6 linked regions of the Homo sapiens genome follow. The protein of the gene in region 5 purifies or fractionates together with the protein of the main gene of each other region. This does not show direct contact. Each region holds a gene or a part of one and is shown on either strand. Other genes may lie near its edges.

Region 1 (3,500 bases), on a different chromosome or scaffold from region 5:
AGGACAACAAGCCTGTGTGTTTCAGGTACTTTCATGGTGATTTTTCACACAGGACAGCTTTTGATAATAGAAAGGCCCTCTCTTTCAAATGAAAGGACTTCACTGATGGATTAACAAATTCTCACCTTTTCACCTATGTGAGCCAAATACTAGATCTACTTTCTTAGTCTTCATAACAAGCAGGACGATAACCATAATTTATAATGAACACAAAACATTGATATAGTGTTCAAAGAACTTTTGCACACTTGGTCTCGTTTGGAAGAATGAAGTAATCTGGAAACATAGAATAGGCATACACTGTGACTTTAGGAAGAACTCTCACAAAATCAGAGGTTGCCCTATGTAATATCACACTTTTTACCTTGAGCAGGTGGATAGCCTGGGAGTTCTTGTTATACCTCAATCTTGGTCCATTCTATTTGTTCCCCTGTCCTTCAGCAGTGCCCTTAGGCTTGCTTTAAACATTAACAGCATTCATAAGCATGGTTTCTAGGGTCAGAGCCCAGCCTCCCTCCACCCACCCGGCTCCCTACACACCTTGACAGTGCTCTTTGAGATGCCTCAGTTCTAGTCTCCTTGTAATTGTGCACAGTAGATGTCTGAACAAATAGACCAGAGTCCTGCAAAAGTGATCTTGAAATCACAATTAAAAGAGACTTTGGAGAGATCTACTCAGGAAAATTTTCTGAATAGACAAATGCTTTTAAAGGGGGTTCTAGACAGTCCGTCTTTTCTGCCTCCTTCTGCGAAGTAGGGCTACACTAAAACCTTGTCACAATGTGACCTGAGCAAAACCATTATCAAGTGATTTAGTTGTCTTGAACCAGACAAAAGAAAATTGACATGATTTCAAGATAGGTTTAGAAAAATAATCTGACTAGCAAAAAAAAAAAAAAAAATGGGGGGTGGTTCCTAGGGAATATGAGACTTGATATTTTAGCAAAAATTTAAATATGCTCTTTATGATACACACATTTCTCGTTGCTTTACAAATTTTAAATGTAACACAAATTTGTTTTTCACACTGTTTTGTTAGTTGAGGTAAGGCATTCCTGCCGCACGCAGCAATGACTCGTCCTGGAAAACCAGGGAGGCTGCATATCCTACTGTTCCTTCTCTACTAGCTGTGGCTCCACACTCTCACCTCCACCAAAGAAAGCATTTCAGAATTTAGGGGTGGAAATGATGACAACATTGAATAATTCTATTTTTTTCTTTTTTTTGAGACAGAGCCACTGTCGCTCAGGCTGAAGTGCAGTGGCGCAATCTAGGCCCACTGCAGCCTCCGCCCCCCGGGGTCAAGCAATTCTCCTGCCGCAGCCTCCCAAACAGCTGGGACCACCGGTGCCCGCCACCATGCCCGGCCAATTTTCCGCATCCCTAGTAGAGACGGGGTTTCACCATGTTGGTCAGGCTGATCTCAAATTCCTGACCTCAGGAGATCTGCCTGCCTCGGCCTCCCAAAGTGCTGGGACCACAGGCGTGAGCCACCACGCCCGGCCAATGATTCTAATTTATATTTTTAAAAATTACCTTATAATCTTAAAACTTTTAACTGATGAGTATCCAACCCTTAAACTTTATAACAATCATTTCCAAAGTGGAAAAGTCACTGGGATATGGGGAAAAGTATGATTTGTTTTTGTACTTCTATTTTTCTAATGTCTACTTTTTGTTTTCTAGTCTACATGTTAGCACAGGAGTATATATATTACTTAAGTATACCTATGTTGGAGTGCATACAGAATTTCTTTTTAAATGATAGGATGCAAAATCAAATCTATTTGGATAGCAGTGAAGAGGCTGTTTTTCAATCCTGGCAAACTAGGGGGTGCATACCCCCTTTTTTATTTAGTAGCTTCCATAAGGCTATAACTCATGGAAGTTACATCCTTACATAAACTGATGGGCTATCCAACCAGTGAGGAAAACTGATAAAGTGGCCTCTGAGCTCCAGGAAGTAGTTAAACACTACTAAAAACATCTTGAAAATTTGGAAAAAAATTTAACAGTAAATGGATTCAGTAGTTATTCAGTATAAGGTTTGGAATAACTCCAGCCATTACAATAGACATTTATTTAAAGTAAAACATCTGCAGACCAAATAATTCTTAAAATTGTTTGTTTCAAGTTTAACCATCTTCATAACAGCTGCATCCACAGACTTCAACTACATGATTACTTCTTTGCCCATTCTTCTCTTTCTTTTCTTTCCCGAATAACCTCTTGCACATACAGTTCAAGGTAGAAATTTTCCTCTTCATATTTGGTCCACTGCTCTTTAGGCAAGATCTGATGCTTCATGGTCAGGTCCAATGCACTCTTAATGTGACACATCCTGTCATTATAAAGGTTCTCAGGAAGCCTTCTTATGGCTTCTTTTATGTCTTCATCCTCATATATTGTATCATCTCTCATTAACCCCAGTTTATTGAATCCTGCAGTATTGTAATACCATTTTCGAATACCATCCAGCCACTTGCCTGATGCTGAAATGGCCTGCTTGCCAGCCATTTTGACCTGCTTTAATTTTTTTTAATCCTTCTTATAACAAGATACAAAAATTATACACTGGCTGCTCATCCCAACAGAATTTGGCAATATAAAACATTTTCTTTCATTAAATACATAGAAAAAGTGTGGTTATTGATATTTATTGATGTAGTTATTATTGAATTTTATATTTGTGTTTTTAAAATTTTTATTTTTATTTAATTTCACACTTGAAAAACCAGGAATATTACAAAGAACTCCCAGAATGTCCTTTACCCAGATTCACCAATTAACATTTTATCACGTTTGCCTTATCATTCTGTTTTTCTCTTCCTCTCCTCCTTCTCCTATTTGACAGTAGTTTGCAAATATCATTCTCCTTTACCTCTTAATATGTCAGTGTGTATTTCCTCAGAATGATGATTTCCTCTTATACATCCTCAGTAAATGTGTCACAATCAAGAAATTTGACATTGTTTCAATATCATAATCTACGCCATATTCCAATGTTATCAGTTGTCCCAATAATGTCTTTTGTGGTTATTTTCTTTCCTTGGTCAAAGTGCTAATCCAAGATGATGCATTACATTTACTTGTCATGTCTCTTCAGTTTTTAATATGGAACAATTCCTTGACCTTTCTTTGTCTTTTATGTTTATAGAAAAACAAACTTAGTTTCTCTCATTATATTCTCACAACCCCACTTCTGACACTGATTGTGTGGAAAAAAAGTTTTTCTTTGGCTCTTGTACCACAGCAACCAACACAGAAAGCTTGTGAACAAATGTATTGGGATTTTTTCTCACCGACAGGCAAGTAAACAATTCTGCAGTGGACACCAGCTGGGTGTTCTCCAATCCAATTCAATTCTGAAGCTATCTCCCTACAGAAAGTATCAGATCCCACAGATTGAGGGCTTAGTCCCACGAGACTGCCTCAACTTTAGACATCAGTTTCAAATCTGGGCCTCTGGAACTTTTAACTGACCAGCTTCAAGTTAGGGT
Region 2 (3,500 bases), on a different chromosome or scaffold from region 5:
AGACACGTACTCTCATATGGAGGGTGTGGCCTCAGTGTCCACAGCCTCAGTGGCTACGAGCTCATTTCCAGAGCCAACAACAGATGATGTGTCTCCATCTCTGCATGCTGAGGTTGGCTCCCCACATTCCACAGAAGTAGATGACTCCCTTTCAGTGTCTGTTGTGCAAACACCTACCACATTCCAGGAAACAGAAATGTCTCCATCTAAAGAAGAATGCCCAAGACCGATGTCAATTTCTCCACCAGATTTCTCCCCTAAAACTGCAAAGTCCAGGACACCCGTTCAAGATCACAGATCTGAACAGTCCTCAATGTCTATTGAATTTGGCCAAGAATCTCCTGAGCAATCCCTTGCTATGGACTTCAGTCGACAGTCTCCAGATCACCCTACAGTGGGTGCAGGCGTGCTTCACATCACTGAAAATGGGCCAACTGAAGTGGACTACAGTCCTTCTGACATGCAGGACTCCAGTTTATCACATAAGATACCACCTATGGAGGAGCCGTCCTACACCCAAGATAATGATCTTTCTGAGCTCATCTCAGTATCTCAGGTAGAGGCCTCCCCGTCCACCTCTTCTGCTCATACCCCTTCTCAGATCGCTTCTCCTCTCCAAGAAGATACTCTATCCGATGTTGCTCCTCCCAGAGATATGTCCTTATATGCCTCACTCACCTCTGAAAAAGTGCAAAGTCTGGAAGGAGAGAAGCTCTCTCCAAAATCTGATATCTCTCCACTCACCCCACGAGAGTCCTCTCCTTTATATTCACCTACTTTTTCAGATTCTACCTCTGCAGTCAAAGAGAAAACAGCAACTTGCCACAGTTCCTCTTCTCCACCAATAGATGCAGCATCCGCAGAGCCCTATGGCTTCCGTGCCTCAGTGTTATTCGATACAATGCAACACCATCTAGCCTTGAATAGAGATTTGTCCACACCTGGCCTGGAGAAGGACAGTGGAGGGAAGACACCTGGTGACTTTAGCTATGCCTATCAAAAGCCTGAGGAAACAACCAGGTCCCCAGATGAAGAAGATTATGACTATGAGTCTTATGAGAAGACCACCCGGACCTCAGATGTGGGTGGCTATTACTATGAGAAGATAGAGAGAACCACAAAATCTCCAAGTGACAGTGGCTACTCCTATGAGACCATTGGGAAAACTACCAAGACCCCTGAAGATGGTGACTATTCCTATGAAATTATTGAGAAGACCACACGGACCCCTGAAGAGGGTGGGTACTCATATGACATAAGTGAAAAGACCACCAGCCCCCCCGAAGTGAGTGGTTACAGCTATGAAAAGACTGAGAGGTCTAGAAGGCTTCTGGATGACATCAGCAATGGCTATGATGACTCTGAGGATGGTGGCCACACACTTGGGGACCCCAGCTACTCTTATGAAACCACTGAGAAAATTACCAGTTTCCCTGAGTCTGAAGGTTATTCCTATGAGACATCTACAAAGACAACACGAACCCCTGATACTTCCACATACTGTTACGAGACTGCAGAGAAAATCACTAGAACCCCTCAGGCATCCACATATTCCTACGAGACTTCAGACCTATGCTACACTGCAGAAAAGAAGTCCCCCTCAGAAGCCCGTCAGGATGTCGATTTATGCCTCGTGTCCTCTTGTGAATACAAGCACCCCAAGACAGAGCTTTCACCCTCTTTCATTAATCCCAATCCTCTTGAGTGGTTTGCCAGTGAAGAACCCACTGAAGAATCTGAAAAGCCCCTCACTCAATCAGGGGGAGCCCCACCGCCTCCAGGAGGAAAGCAACAGGGCCGACAGTGTGATGAAACCCCTCCCACCTCAGTCAGCGAGTCAGCCCCATCCCAGACCGACTCTGATGTTCCCCCGGAGACTGAAGAGTGCCCCTCCATCACGGCCGATGCCAATATCGACTCTGAAGACGAGTCGGAAACCATCCCCACAGACAAAACTGTCACGTACAAACACATGGACCCACCTCCAGCTCCCGTGCAAGACCGCAGCCCTTCGCCACGCCACCCTGATGTGTCCATGGTGGACCCAGAGGCCTTGGCCATTGAGCAGAACCTGGGCAAAGCTCTAAAGAAAGATCTGAAAGAGAAGACCAAAACCAAAAAGCCAGGTACAAAGACCAAGTCATCTTCACCTGTCAAAAAGAGTGATGGGAAGTCTAAGCCCTTGGCAGCTTCACCAAAACCAGCGGGCTTGAAAGAATCCTCGGATAAAGTGTCCAGGGTGGCTTCTCCTAAGAAGAAAGAATCTGTGGAAAAGGCAGCAAAACCCACCACCACTCCTGAGGTCAAAGCTGCACGTGGGGAAGAGAAAGACAAGGAGACCAAGAATGCTGCCAATGCCTCTGCATCCAAGTCGGCCAAGACCGCCACTGCAGGTAGGTTGAGAAGGCTGGGCATTGGATATATGTCACAACCATTCTACTTGCGTTTACAGCCTTTATATTTCCCTGTTTGGCTTTGTACTGGGAAGATGAGGGAGCACAATTGATGCTTTACCTTCCCTGTACTCTTCTCCTCTGCCCAAAGGTATATATCTCAGTCCAGTGTGGCCTTAAGGCTTGGAAATAGCTCAGTGTATGGTTCAAAGCAGCTGTGATTCATCACTGGGATTCCTGATTTTGTGCCGTTTTCGAACACAGCAACTACAGCCCTGTTCTAAATCTTCAGAACCAAGGATGTGTCTTTCAGGTGCTTCTGGAAGACTGGTTTCAGCCATACTGGCCTCAGAATCCAGCAGGGTAACACAGGCCAGGAGCTCCCAAAGGCCTAAGGAGAACCAGAGGTTTCACATCAAGACTGGATCAACCAGTCTAGACCCAAGATTTAGAGTCCTTTTTTAAAAAAAATTTTTTTTAAATTAAAAATGTTTACATTTTTATTTAAAACATCACCAGGTTGGAGATAAATCCTCATTAAAGGCAGTGTTCCATTTTCTTATCAGCCAAAAAATACTATAATTTCAGTTGACCAGTGAGTGTCCGGTGAAAATTGAGAGAAAAACATTGATGGCTCTGCTCTTACCCTTCTCTTACCCCATGGCCTCATTAGTAGAGACTCAATGCTATTTCAGATTAAAATTCCACTGGGAAGCTAGATGCATGGCCTCATGCCTGTAATTTCAGCACTTTGGGAGGCTGAGATGGAAGGTTAGCTTCAGCCCAGGAAGTTGAGACCAGCCTGTGCAACATAGCAAGACCCTGTCTCCACAAAAAAAAAAAAATGTTTTTTAATTAGCTGGGTGTGGTGGCACGTGCTTATAGTCTTAGCTACTTGGGAGGCTGAGGCAGGAGGATCACTTCAGCCCAAGAGATCAAGGCTGCAGTGAGCCAGAATTGTATGTATCACTGCATGCCAAGCCTGGGTGACAGAGCAAGACCCTGTCTCTCAAAAATAAATAAATAAGCAAATGAAATGCCACTTGGCAAGAGCAGGTATCCCTGATTTTTGATCATTCATGTTTTTGGTCATGATTCTCAGATTTA
Region 3 (3,500 bases), on a different chromosome or scaffold from region 5:
TATAAGTGAGTAGGATGCCTAAATAGGCTAAAATGAATGAAATTCTTATAAAAAATAAATTCTTACATTTAGTTAGCTTACCTGGATAATCATTCAAATGGAAACCAGGTTGCTACTGCACTGGGAAAAGAGACTTTATGAAGAACGATTATATAAGCCACTTGCCTTTAAAATAAGTTGTTCTTAAAATCAAGAGATTGGTGGAAGAATAGAAAAACAAGTAAATTGTTAACAGATTTCTTTAATCATCTGCTAAGTCTGGCTCATTGGCATAATTTATCTACTTCTTGATGTTAGTCACATAGTCATAAACTATTACCTTATTGGAGAGAGTGGAAGAGCTTTGTGTGATGGATAAAATACTTGCGGGGTGCTTTATTTGATTTCTTGCATTACTTGGGGATCTAAATCTAGCAATTCACAAAATTACTATCTAAAATGACAAAGATCTAGTGAAACTTCAAGCCACAGTTTCTTTTTGTTGCCCTATTTAGTGATGTTGCCAGTACTTGGAGCCTTGGAAACAGTTTATTATTGTTACATAGTCCGCAGAAATACTTGGTAATTCTGGGAGTCTGAAGTCAGGTGCCAGAAACTGTTCATTTTCTAGTAGGGGTAAGTAAGGTAAGCCATGATTTTCTAAGTCGGAAGTAAAGAAAACAGCATAAAACTGAAGAAAAAAAATAGTAGAAGGAAGGAAGTAGGAAGAAAAAAGAAATCTTATCTGTGCATGATACATAGCAGGAGTTTTGTATTTAACTCAGTGCCACAGTAATAATAGCAGTAACTACAGATAGTTTAACTTGAATTTAATTATTCCGTGCTAGAAGATGCTTGCTATAGAAACAATTTGTCTTTCTCTCATGATGCTATAAAATAATATATTAATTAGCTGTTTTAAAAACTAGATACCATTGAAGTAAATTTTGTTGTTGTTGTTTTGAGACAAGAGTCTCACTCTGTTGCCCAGGCTGGAGTGCAGTGGCACGATCACAGCCTTGACCTCCCTGGGCTCAGGTAATCCTCCTGCCTCAGCCTCCCAAGTAGCTGGGACCACAGGCACACACCACCACACCCAGCTAATTTTCTGTTTTTTGTAGATACAGGGTTTTGCCATGCTGCCCAGGTCGGTCTCTAACTCCTGGGCTCAAGTGATCTGCCTGCCTTGGCCTCCCAAAGTGCTGGGATTACAGGTGTGAGCCACAGTGTCTGGCTTGAAGTAAGTTTTTTAGTGGACAAAGTGTGAGTTGGTCTGTAAAATAATTTATTCCCAAGGGCCTTATTCTAGTTTTGTAGGGTTTTTTGTTTGTTTGTTTTTTTCTGGAAGAAAATGCGACCCAAAATGCCAGTTGGAATACTTAGCAGCTTTTTGGTCTTGGACAAGTTATTTAACCTTAGCTTTAACTTCTTCATCTTTTCAATAGGGATGGATAATAATGCCCATCTTTCAGAGTCATTCTGATAATTAAATGAGGTGATATAAAAGAAGTAACTAGTTTAATGTTGGTGCTTAATAGAGAATAGCTGTCCCATGTTATTTCCCACCACGATCTCCCTCTCTGTCTAGGTGCTCAGTCTCTCTAGTAGCCCAACTCAGTCAGTCATTCACACCTACTGTAGTCTACTGTCATCTTACTGCCTTTCACTGTCCTCTCATTCCCCTCATAACTTTACTTCCTTCTTTATCCTGCTTCAACTCCATGAGCAACCACGACAGTCAGTACACATTCCCTCAGCCCCCACCCCATTCCCCTCTTGCTGTCTTATACAAGAAATCACAACCCTGATTATATCAACACAGATGTGCTGACCAGCCTCACTCTAAATTTATGTTCGCTAGCCTCCGCAGTCATGGTCACTTCCTAGCAGTCACACTATACTTCCATAATCCATTTCACTTTTCTACATGGCTATTCCATTCATTTTCCTCAAGCCTCCAACACCTCCCCCATATTCACTTTCAGCCCCTTAACCGTGCTTTCTATAGCAGTTAACTGAGAAAAGAACAGCAAACGAAAGATAATTTTGATAAACTTACCCCTCACATACCCAGTTACCTGCATCTGTTCCCCAGACTTCTATGTTTTTTTCTGATCAATATGGATAAACTGTTCTTATTTCTGTCTAAGACCACCCTTCCACTTGTGCAGCATTTGTCCCCTCTTGGTGATTCAAGAACATTGCTCCAGCAGTTCTCTACTCTCCTCAGTTTTTCCTTCCCTAACGTATCTTTCTGTCTGCTTACAGATAGGCAGTTATTTCTTCTACCTTAAGAACAACCAAAAAACCCCACTGTACTTGAACTGAATTTCCTCTTTTCTAATGATTACCCCATTTCTATCCTTCCCTTTATAGCGAAACCCCTTGAAGAAGTTGTCTACACCACTGGTGTTCATTCATTTTTGAGCCCTGTTTACTAAGGTTTTTATTCCTACATATGAAGTTTTCTTATCAAAATTACCAAAGATTTCCATGTTACCAAATCCAGTAGTTAGTTCTTAGTCTCATTCTACTTCACCAGTCAGCATTACGTGGTACAGTTAGTCTGTTCTCTGTGAAGCATTTTCTTAACTTGATCGTATGCCATTTTTTTCCTCATATCTCACTGGTTACCTCTCAATCTCCTTGGCTGATTGAACCTGTAAGCCGCCAAATGTTGGGAGAGCTCCAGGGCTCAGTTATCTCCCCTTTTCTCTCTGTCTGTTAACATTTATTTAATCATCTGCATTCTTTTGATGATCTCATCCATCTAGTTCCTGGTTTCAAATACTACCTGTATATCACTGACTCCTATCTCTAGCCTGAATTTCTCCTCTGAACTCCTGACTTGTATATCCATTGCCTCTTTAACATCTCTACTTGTAGGGAAGTCTGCTAGAATCTCAATTCAGCATGCTCCAAACCTGTTCCTCCATCAGCCTTCCCCATCTAATCAAATGACAGCTCTATTCTAGTTGGTAAGACCAAAACACCTTGGAGCCATCCTTAATTCCTCTCTCTCTGTCTCACCTCATGTGATCCGAACCTATCAGCTCTGCTTTCAAACTAGATGCAGAATTTGACCTCTGACCACCCCTACTACCCTGGTCCATTATCTCTCACTAGTCTATTCAGAGATACTCAGATTCCTGTTTCTTGTTTCCAATATTGACCTCTCAGTTGATTCTTTCTCCTCCTCCCAATTTTACTTGAGTGAATCTTTGTAATTAAAAAATAAAATATATGGGAAATGTAGGTGACAAATTTTCTTAGTGAACCTATGTTTTCTTGTGCTTGACTGGTTGGTTGGCTATGTATTTCCAAATTAAGAGTCTTTTTTCTGTGGAACTTTGAAGTTACTGCTTTTTGTTCTTCTAATATTCTGGGGTTGCTGATGCCAGTCTGACTCTCAGTCACTTTTCTCTCTGGAAGCTTTTATTTAGAATTCTCTATTCCTGGAATTCACAAATGTGATCACACTGGTTTGTTGTTGTTTGTTTGTTTTTTGGTTTGGTTTGATT
Region 4 (3,500 bases), on a different chromosome or scaffold from region 5:
AACTTGGTTTCTACCTACCACACGAGTAGCCAAAAGAAAAGAAGCACTAATAGAGAAAGGGGTGTCTCACACCAGACAGAGGACCTCTGCTGTCAATTAGATCCAGTATCATGACCTAACTTTAAGTGTGGAAAAGAGTTCAGATCTCTGAGACACTGTGAAGAAATGGATGGCTCATGTAACATCTCTGATCCCTCAGTCCCCAACCCTGGACGTGTTTCATTTACAACATTCATAGGAGTTAACTTAGCAGTGTTGCAAGTTAAGGTTCCAAACCAAATTATTTAATCAGTGTCCCCCCAATAAATCACTTATCCATTTATTGCTAGTTAGTTTTATTTATAGCAACTTGATTTCCTATGAGTATGGCTCCTGTTGTAAGAATTTTCCCACCTCTTCTGACATGAATGTAGCATAAGTTAGCAATCGGTTCTTCCAAACTCCTGTGGGTTGAATATGGTATAGAAGGTATGCAAGAGGAAAAAGAAAGGAAAAGATAAAACTCCTGCCTGAGAATTTGGAAGCACCTTTATTAACACATATATCTCGCAGAAACTAGAAGCTCATAGGCTGTTAACTTTTTGCAACTATTCACTCATTTTTACCACTTTTTTTTTTGGGTGAGGGGGTGATTTTTGTAAGGTTAACAGCCAGATTCCATTTTGACCTCAGATGCTGTGTACTTTTTAATTTCATTTTTTATATTCTGCCATCTTGACTCTTCTCTAAAACAGAATGAAAATGTCTGCATGCTGAGCAAAATGCTTACGCCAAGCCTGTTTTTCTCTGCAGAGTAAACAGGATGTTTTCAGCAGACTTGGCTCTAATAGCCATCTCTAAGATTAGGGAACAATTGAGTCTTTATGTAGAAAAGATCCATTTTTTCCCCATCCTCAGAGTTAAAATTCAACATTTAAAGCTTTATCGGTTATTGTTTTAGATTTGAGATTTTTGTTTTTAAGTATCTATAAGATCTTTAGAAGTGAGATAAATTTTTCGCTGGTTAAAAAAAATCAAACTTTCCTCTGCAGTGTTTTTGCCAAGTTTTGTCACACTTCATGTGTATGCATTAACTATACTTCTTAGTGTTACTGCAAAAAAAAAAAACAAAAACAAAACAAAAAAAAGCCTTGTTCTTTAATTGTGTTTTTCCTCCTGTGAGTGGACAACTAAAGCCGCGTGATGATGCGGATGAAAATATTCTGGTCTGTGTGTATACAATGAATTGTCAGTCTTCAGACCTCATGGTCGTTAAGAAAATAGGGAACTCACAAACCCTGCTGCGCACTACATTTACTTCTTTATCTGCAAGTACAGGGAGTCCATACAGTCAAGAAACACACAGATACACATAATGCTATTGAGGACATTGTCATTCTGTAAGAAAACAGAATATTATCTAGATTTCCAGAGTTAGTGCAGACCCTGTGATAACAGTCTGTGGGTTTGTGGCCAGCGCCAAAGGTGTGTGTATTTTCAGAAATGGTCCCTATTTGTCAGTGATAGTGTTTTTTTTTTCTTAAGTTTGACAAAGGGGGTGGTAATATCACATTCTTTAGATTTGAAATAATTATCAGCTCCAAGAATCTGTGAACATAGTAATAACAATAAAAATTCAACATCGACCCTCCCTAACCTGCTCACCATACCTCCCCACCCCATGCCTCTGAAGAAAGAGGCCATGAACCTACGAGGTGGTAAAGGGGGACACAGGTCAGGGAGTGGAGAGCTACTCCTCCAGCAGCTCAGCACCCACACTGCCCGCATGCGTGTGGCCACCGGGACCAGATCCCGAGTGATTGTGGCATACCCCTAATATTTGAGTAGTTTTTAAGCTGTCAGTCTCTTGTCATAACCTCCTACCGCCACCCAAAAAAGTAACGAAAGTTGCAGTAACTGCCAGTGTTTGCCTCACCAAATTTAAATCGTTCCCTTTTCAGTTAGCTATATACCTGAATTTGTTTTTAACAAGAAACTGTACATGGCCAGGAAAAATGGTACTACCTTGGCCAAAGGGTCTTTGCAAAAAGCTCAGTCTTCAGTTCTTCACTGTGACAAATGCTTATCTTGTTCATGGGAGGGGAAAGATCAGATAAATAGGCAAGAAGTACTCTGTTTTAAATAAAGAATAAATAGTGTCCGTTTAAAGCACTTTGTGCCTCAACTTCATTTTTAAACTGTAAATCATTGCTTTGGAAATAAATTCCCAATTATAATTGACCCATATCTAGCCAATATCAACAAGTTGGGATGGTTTTTGTTTTTTTCTTTTTTTTCAAAAAGGGAAATTCCTCTTTACTGCTCACAGTAAGCTGCAAAAGAAAGTTGTCAAGGTGGCTTATGATGCTGTTGTAGCAGAGCTGTGAAAGGAAGTGCTTTGCTTTCTCTCCCGCCTTCCGGAATCTGGCGTTCCTTCCCCTTCGGCTACTGAAAGGTGTGTACAACTCCCAGAGGGGTGGCTGTAAAAGTTGACTGGAGGCAAAGTGGAGTGGCCTTATTGCCAGGACTAGCCCTACAGAAGAGCTTTACAGAGAGGAGGACAGTACATCCTATGTGTGTTCGCCAAAAATGGGAAAGGTGGGTATTTAGGCAAAACAAAATAAAAACCTTTGGAACCCTTTAAGAAGTTACATACCTTTTAAAGGTAGTATAGTTTCTCACCAAGTGATGCATTTTAGCATGACACTTCTTGCCAGAAATTTTGGGATAAGTTGGAATAAATGTGTTTAAAACATCATCCACCGCCCTTTTTAAATTTTGTCTAAGGAATTACTTAAGTATAGTATTTCTGAATGTGCCTTTGTGAGTACAGAGACCGTCCGTTCTAGGAAGAAGCTATCCGTTGGATACAAACAAACAGACGGTCAGCTTTAGTCATTAGGGAAGTCAAAGTTCCTCCTGGAAGTCCCAGGAGCAGCTGTTGAGATTTCATTAGCATCAATATTGCACAGTGTAGAGTTGAGTGGAAGAGATTCTGGGACTTGGGAGAGGAGACAGGGGAAGGTACCCAGGCGACGCAGACCCACGTTAGTCCAAGAGCGCAGGTTTACACATCTGCATTCCCTAGTTTTCTCCGTCTGTATGTTTGTGCTCATGTGGCTTTGGCTGTTTTGTTTTTTGTTTTTCTGTAAGCACTGGAGAATTGGAATATGGTGATACTTGTGACACATTCATGCATGTAAACAAGGCATTTTCCAGCTTCTGCCGTGTGCAGAGCGGGCAGCACGCTTTTACCCTTTGAGTCTGTGTCCTGAGGCGGCCATTACATTCCCACATGGGCGTCACATCACGTTGCTGTTGATGCAAACAGGGTATTACACACAAGGAAAAGGGGTTTTGAAGAGTTAAGATTGAAGTGTTTGAGAAAGAAAAGAGAAAAATCTGAAATCATATTTTATTTCTTCAGAGCTATTATAGTTGAACACAGAAATCTGCAGTGTCTTTATTTGTTTTTATGTTTTAAACAATTTCACCTCTTCTCCCCACTCCTATCTTCTAAA
Region 5 (3,453 bases):
TATCATTCCACTATCAAGACACATGCACACGTATGTTTATTGCAGCACTATTCACAATAGCAAAGACTTGGAACCAACCCAAATGTCCATTAATGATAGACTGGATAAAGAAAATACGGCATATATACACCCAGGGAATACTATGCAGCCATAAAAAAGAATGAGTTCTTGTCCTTTGCAGGGGCATGGATGAAGCTGGAAACCATCATTCTCAGCAAACTAACAAAGTAACAGAAAACCAAACACCACATGTTCTCACTCACAGGTGGGAATTGAACAATGAGAACACACGGACATAGGGAGGGGAACATCACACACTGGGGTCTGTCGCGGGGTGGGGGACTAGGGGAGGAAGCGCGTTAGGAGAAATACTAATGTAGATGATGGGTTGATGGGTGCAGCAAACCACCATGGCATGTGTATACCTATGTAACAAACCTGCATGTTCTGTACATGTACCCCAGAACTTAAAGTATAATAATAATTAAAAAACACTTGAGTATAAAAAAAAGTCTGAAACATTTTACTTCATATTACACATACTTTTTTTTTAAAAAAGGCAGAAACATTGAAGGAAACAACACTCAACATGAAAGAACCTTGTGCCGGAGTTCTAGAAGGACCTTGAAAATCAGTTTTAAAAGGCCTTGCTGTCACATAGTCTTTTTCATGGCTGCTTGAGTCATGCTGAAGAGATAGGCTTCATAGATTATATTTAAGAAGTTGTCATCATTCTGGAAAACAAATCGAAAGACCCAAGAGAATGTTACTTGGTTGGCAGACACAAAAGGCTTCCTCTGTCTTAGAGCTGAACTGGCCTTTGGATACTGAGACACTCATCTCTCCCTGTCTAACAGCTGGTGGTTTTTAATTGCATGTGTGAATGTTAAGTGGGGTTGACGGCAAGGCCGGACAGAGCTGATGGTTTTCCATGGTCAGTATGCACAGCAGCAAGAGCTCATTACATGCAGCACAGATGGGCAGCCCAGACACATGGCAGCATGGAGCAAGGTTTACTCAAGAACAGCCTGGGTCTGCTGCATGAAAAGACATGAAGCCCCAGCAGACAGAGGAGTTAGGAGGACATGATCCAAGTCAGTGGTCTCAAAGTTTGGTTAAGAGATTGCTGTGGTGTGTTTTTTTGTTTCTTGTTTTTTGGGTTTTTGAGACTGGGTCTCACTCTGTCACCCAAGCTAAAGTGCAGTAGTGCCATCATAGCTCACTGCAGCCTCAACCTCATGGGTTCAAGCGATCCTCCCACCTCAGCCTCCAGAGTAGCTAGGGCTACAGGTGCGTGCTACCATGCCTGGCTTTTAAGTTTTTTGTTAAGACAGGGTCTCACTATGTTGCTCAGGGTGGTCTTGAACTCCTGGGCTCAAGTGAGCCTCCCACTTTGGCCTCCCCAAGTGTTGGATTACAGGCATGAGCCACTGTGGTTCTTAAAGGCCCTCCAAGTCACCTACAATGTGTCTGCTTTGTTTTGGGCATTACTTAGGATTTTACTTGCAATATGCTTCATCAGTACTTCATCAAAGCTAATATAAGTCTTCCCATAAGTTATGGAAAGTTTCTAGCCTTGGCAAGTGGGCAGGAGTAAGACTGGTAATCTCTGGGCTCTTTTGCCTGGCTAAGGAGTGAGAATCACGGTCTAATCAGTGGTTTTCCTCATGTTTTAATTCTAGAGACTTCTCCCTCCCACCCAAATTCTTTACAGTGTTAGTAATTCACCCACACTTCACATTCCCCCTTCATTCCCTCTTGGCACCCCACACAGATTTAGCATCATTCTCATGCAATGAAGAGAGTGATGTTATCCCTCTTTTTCCTGCAAAGTAGTCACAAAGTTCCTCTGCATGAGATTGTGTCCTAACAAGAGGCAGAAACTAAAAACAGACTGCTTGAGTGACTGGGAATATGAGGTGTGGTACACGGGAAGAAGTAAAATGCACGCAGAGTGGAGGGCAGGGGAATGTAATTTCTAATCCGCCATGTTCAGCCACTACTCTGGAGTAGAGTCTCAAGACAATGTGAAGGGAATCAGCCAGAAAACATATGGATCTTTTAAATTACAACTTAAGAAACTGGCTCAAAGTAAAGAGGTTCACAGATGTCTAATTCCTCCTGAGCTTACTATGAATAGCTTTAAAAGGTGGCAAATATTTTTATCCTGATATTTACTTATGAATTAGTAGGGCTCAATCATTTGCTGTTGACCTTATTTATCTCTGATTGTTATTATGCTTCTGCTGACTTCTAGCCCCATTCCTTTCATTCTTCCTCAAACATGTTTCCTTCTTTTGTAGTCTCGCTATGTTGCTCAGGCTGGTCTTGAACTCCTGGCCTCAAGCAATGCTCCCACCTTGGCTTCCCAAAGTGCTGGGATTACAGGCGTGAGCAGCCACTGTGCCCGGCCAACATGGAACCTTTTTAAAAATGTTGTACTAATTGAGACCACTGTCTTTTTAAGTAGGATAAGACAACCGCAGAAGGGCTGGCCTGCTCTCTAAAGGCCGTCTGATGCTTAAGCAAAGTACCACACAAGTTTTCTTAAAGATTATCTACCAAAAAGACACCTAAATATGTTAACTGGGGTGTCTGAAGTCTGTCTGGCTACAAATGTTCCACTTTTCAAGGACTGCCGTTGATTTCTTGGGTGTGCTTTGCTAGGGCACCTGTGCTGAATGTTCTCCCGAGGCTGGTCCCTGCCAACATTCATGTGGTGAACGTGGCCCACGGGAGAGTACGTGGGAAGTGGCACTCGGGGGCCAGGCTGGGTGCATCCCAGCCCTGCTTATGTACGAGCTCCGTGCCTCAGGCCAGTTGCTCAGCCTCAGTTTCCTTGTCTGTAGAATGGGAAAAATAACAGGGTTGTTATGTAAGGAGTGAATGAGTTATATGCTTGTGTGTAGCACTGAAAATAGGGCCCGGCGCCAGCTCTGTGGAGTGTTAGCTATTATAGCACTCATTATTATTTCATAATTTCATAGGCAAGTGAGGCTAGCAGCTCACAAGGAGTCCTGTCACTCCATCCCGTCCTAATGAGCAGGTTTCAAAATGACTTGTAAAACATACCTGTAGCAGCCATGGCCATTATTTGCTTCCCTCCCTGTTTTCCACTCGCTCAGTGGCCTCTTCCCCACTCAACAGATGGCCCCTTGCCCAGGACTGCTCCCACCTCTACCTCCCAATGGTGAGTTTTCTGTCTGGGCCTCCAGCACCCAGGGTCCTCTCAGGGACTGCTTAATCCCCAGCATATGCTTCCTTCTCTTCTGACAGGTGACAGCTTGGAGGCCTTAGACAGTCCTTCAAATTACAAAATCCTTGAAGAGCTGAGACACCCAAGCCACACTTGGTATTATAAATAACACCTAGCTAACTGAGCACAGAAGCCGCTGGGGTCAGGATGAGTTGTTACACACACCTGTTATTCTCACGGAAGCTAAGCAGGCCTTG
Region 6 (3,410 bases), about 75 Mb from region 5:
TTTAGCAGGGGAGTCCGACAACAGTGCAACATAGATCACTCTGGAGATATAAAGAGCTAGGGGGACATCAGATTAAGTCTTCTTGCAGGTCAATTTAAAAGTAAGGCTAACAATAGAAATTGGCTCTCAATGAAAGGTGGGCATTAGCTAAAATGAGAAGCATTTGACTTAATGGATGCTACAAGAAGTTGAGGGGTGGTCTGCATTTACCTGTGATTCCTAGACTGGATAAACATCAGAATCATCTGGAAGCTCCAAACCTACAGAGATTGGGACTTAGTAGAAATCAGAAGCTCAGTTACACAGTACCTGAACCCCCGCAAGCTCCCATGTAATTCTGATGCACTAAGATTCAGCATTTAGCAACCACGGGGTGATCTCAGCAAAAAGATCTGACTTGTGTTTATGAGGGCCTGGTTGGCTATGTTGTAGCTGTTAATGGTTTTACTCAAAACAGTATGCAAAAAAAGCCTACCAAAAAATACAACCACCATCTCTTCTTAAATGAATTATTTTTTATTGCTATTTTATAAAGCTTAATATTTTCCTAAAAATATTAGAAAAAAAATCAGAACAAAAAATCAGTTTACATGTAGTACAGTTACAAGTAAATAGCTATAGATAATATAGCCATTAGGAAAAAGAGCAGAGCTAAATAATAAGAAAACAAAAGCAGTAAGCAGCAATAAAATTAATACCTACATACAACTAGCAGTGCAATAAGATAAGCAGAAAGCAGCTTTACGTTAAAAGAAAGTTATTTAAATACAGAAATAGCACCTTACAAAAAGGAATTGAGAAATGTAAACTTGGTAGGTAGATTCAAGTATAAAAGTTATACCCCCGACTCTTGTACCAGAATGAAAGGGTTTTACAAACCCTGGTCAGTGTAGGGCACACACAGCCTCTGTGACAACTCAAAAAAGCTGCATTCTCTTAGTAGGACCACCAACGATTATTTTTTTCTTTTACTAAATTATACAATAATAGACTCAAGATTGCCATTGCTTCTTCACTACCCAAAATATCCAAGTCTAGCGCAGCAGCTTCAATTCCACCAGTTGTTCTGTAAGATTTATTTTCCTGACAGAAACAACCACTGCATTATTATTTTTACATATAAAGCCACATTAAGAAGTGGATACTGAATACAGAAGCAATTGTCCTTGGTTTTCTACTCCTAAGAATGGTCACCAAGTCATAATATCCTCACCAATGGGACTGCTTCTTAACACCCCTCAGGAATTATGAATTCTGAGGTTAAATGGTCATATCATGATCAGAATAATAAAAAAAGATAGCAAAAATGTTAAAACAAGTATAGAGCATTCAGGAACAGTGAGGGGAAAAGCAATTTCTGTTTCCGTCTAAATGCAGACCTCTCCATGAAATATTTTGTGGAAGTTCTTAAGCATGGTAGAATTAACATGCATATACCCTGCACAGATTGAAACCTGAAAAAGGTATATTTTTATTTGTTTTGATAGGGAACCCATCAGTTTTAGTTCAGGGTCATTTAACCATGCAATTGTTGATGGTTAGAACCACATTTTTAACCTAACTCTATAGAAGACTGTAAAAAAGAAAAAAAAAACTTGTAAACTTTAAAAGTTTAGTGTTGATAAAAATTTTTATATAAGTAGCAAATTTATTTAATGTAGCTACCTACCTCAAGTTTTAAAAAATCTTGTGGGGGTAATAAGGCTAATATTATCCTGTAGTTAATATAAAGCTACTTTATTCAGACTCCCAGAGTCTCTTAAATTAATATTTTCATTCTTTCATATAACATTTTATTGGGTCAAAAAATAAAAATAAAATAAAACCCTACACCAGGATTCTACATCTAAGATAGTTTTAAGAGAGGAAGAGGAAGGAAGAAAAGAAGTAGGAAGGAGGGAAGGAAGAGAGAATGAAGGAAAGTAGGAAGGAAAGAAGGGAACCATTTACTCTGAAGAGACAAGAGAGAGGTAAATATCAGCAAGTCTAGGAATACAAAGAACTAGTATAGTTTGGCGACTTAATGCACCCCTAAAGTAATGTGGGTTAAAAAAGGGAAATTGCATAACAGTTTCCAGAATTGTATTCATGCTAGAACAACCAACCCGTGCGCTCACCATTCTCATTTTTCAGAGGTACCAACTAACTACAGTTTGAATACCCTTGGATATGAAACATATGTCCATTTTCCCTCTTACTCTTCTGGACATGAAGTAGAAGAAAAACAAAAGAATCATCTCTTGCCCTGTATCAATTTTCACATCATTACTCTTCAGAATTCAACGAAAAGGTCTCATCCAGGTTCCAATTTTCCATATAATCACTTTCTACCATCCTGATTTATTTTACAAACAGCAATTGTTAGAAGGCATCCATATCTGATGGCGCTACAGCTAAATATTTAAATAAAAAATGCAGGGCATGTAGTGAAGGAAACTGGGCACAGTAGGATTTTTAGAAACAAACAGTAATATCTCACTGTTCACACAGTTATTTGAGAAGCAGCAGTTAGGCTGCTAGAGTTCTAGAGTTCATCTTTGTTCTCAAGCCCACAGTCAGGGTTAGCACAGTTCATTTACAGCAAGGTGTGTCATTCACAGTTATTTTGGTCTTGACATGTGTCATGTAGATACATTTATCCACATTATTACTAGGTTGTAAAATAAGTGCAGGGCAAATTATAGAATAAAAGTATAAACATTCAAGTCGTCATACCCTGAAAAAAATGTGTTAAAGACTGTAGTTGTAAACTTTTTGCACTAAATCCCATTTCAGGAACAAAATAAATAACACCATAGGATTCACAACTGAAGGTGGCTTCCTGATGAAGCCTAAGGAAGCAGTAGCTTTTTTAAACTGCAGAAAGGAAGCTTCTCTCACCACAGATTTACTCAGGGCAAGTGGAAATACATGTTAAGAATGCTTACCCTAGTTAAGTGCTAGACAGCGCCCCCCTTTAGAAAAACAAGGCTCCGGTAGCCTATTCAGATCTACTTCCAGAATAAGACGATTCTTGAATCAAAACCATAAGTCAGTCGGCGCTTTCACTGTGACACCATGCAGAGTCGGAACTCTAACTGGTATTAAATGCACAATTAATTACTTTCAGGAAATCAGATGATTGATGGTGGTGGGAAGTTAACAGAAGTGTGGATGAAAGAGAGAGGAAGGACCCGTGCTCAGGACGGGATGGTTTGCATCCCGCCTCGGACATCCGGGACTCTCAGGGCGTTTGATCCCACCCCCACCTGGCAAAGCGGCAGGTTAGTCAGCGCCGCCGCTGGGGATTTCTAGTCTCCTCTGGGCCGAGCTGGTGTTTCGTGACTGGTTCCTTTCTCTTCTCTTCAGGACAGGGTCTCCAAGGCTGCCGGGTGTCTTGAAAAACGTCTCACGATGTGTGCGTTGGATGC

What was found.
Region 1: the proteins of DCP1B (region 5) and NBDY purify together in Homo sapiens (co-immunoprecipitation; one study listed by IntAct). This does not show direct contact.
Region 2: the proteins of DCP1B (region 5) and MAP1B fractionate together in Homo sapiens (co-fractionation; one large-scale study listed by IntAct). This does not show direct contact.
Region 3: the proteins of DCP1B (region 5) and LSM14A purify together in Homo sapiens (affinity purification with mass spectrometry, with the first as the bait; one large-scale study listed by BioGRID). This does not show direct contact.
Region 4: the proteins of DCP1B (region 5) and TNRC6B purify together in Homo sapiens (affinity purification with mass spectrometry; one large-scale study listed by BioGRID and IntAct). This does not show direct contact.
Region 6: the proteins of DCP1B (region 5) and E2F7 purify together in Homo sapiens (affinity purification with mass spectrometry; one study listed by BioGRID and IntAct). This does not show direct contact.

What each region holds. Positions count from the first base shown.
Region 1 is NC_000023.11:56,735,061-56,738,560, forward strand, and holds part of NBDY (negative regulator of P-body association), read left to right. Parts: intron 1-1,727; exon of another isoform or gene 1,728-2,524; intron 2,525-3,500. UniProt on the Homo sapiens protein: Promotes dispersal of P-body components and is likely to play a role in the mRNA decapping process.
Region 2 is NC_000005.10:72,197,975-72,201,474, forward strand, and holds part of MAP1B (microtubule-associated protein 1B), read left to right. Parts: coding exon 1-2,393; intron 2,394-3,500. UniProt on the Homo sapiens protein: Facilitates tyrosination of alpha-tubulin in neuronal microtubules. Phosphorylated MAP1B is required for proper microtubule dynamics and plays a role in the cytoskeletal changes that accompany neuronal differentiation and neurite extension.
Region 3 is NC_000019.10:34,179,004-34,182,503, forward strand, and holds part of LSM14A (protein LSM14 homolog A), read left to right. Parts: intron 1-3,500. UniProt on the Homo sapiens protein: Essential for formation of P-bodies, cytoplasmic structures that provide storage sites for translationally inactive mRNAs and protect them from degradation. Acts as a repressor of mRNA translation. May play a role in mitotic spindle assembly.
Region 4 is NC_000022.11:40,327,925-40,331,424, forward strand, and holds part of TNRC6B (trinucleotide repeat-containing gene 6B protein), read left to right. Parts: 3' UTR 1-3,500.
Region 5 is NC_000012.12:1,945,553-1,949,005, forward strand, and holds the end of DCP1B (mRNA-decapping enzyme 1B), read right to left. Parts: intron 735-3,453; coding exon 654-734; 3' UTR 501-653; downstream 1-500. UniProt on the Homo sapiens protein: May play a role in the degradation of mRNAs, both in normal mRNA turnover and in nonsense-mediated mRNA decay. May remove the 7-methyl guanine cap structure from mRNA molecules, yielding a 5'-phosphorylated mRNA fragment and 7m-GDP.
Region 6 is NC_000012.12:77,020,751-77,024,160, forward strand, and holds the end of E2F7 (transcription factor E2F7), read right to left. Parts: coding exon 3,265-3,410; 3' UTR 501-3,264; downstream 1-500.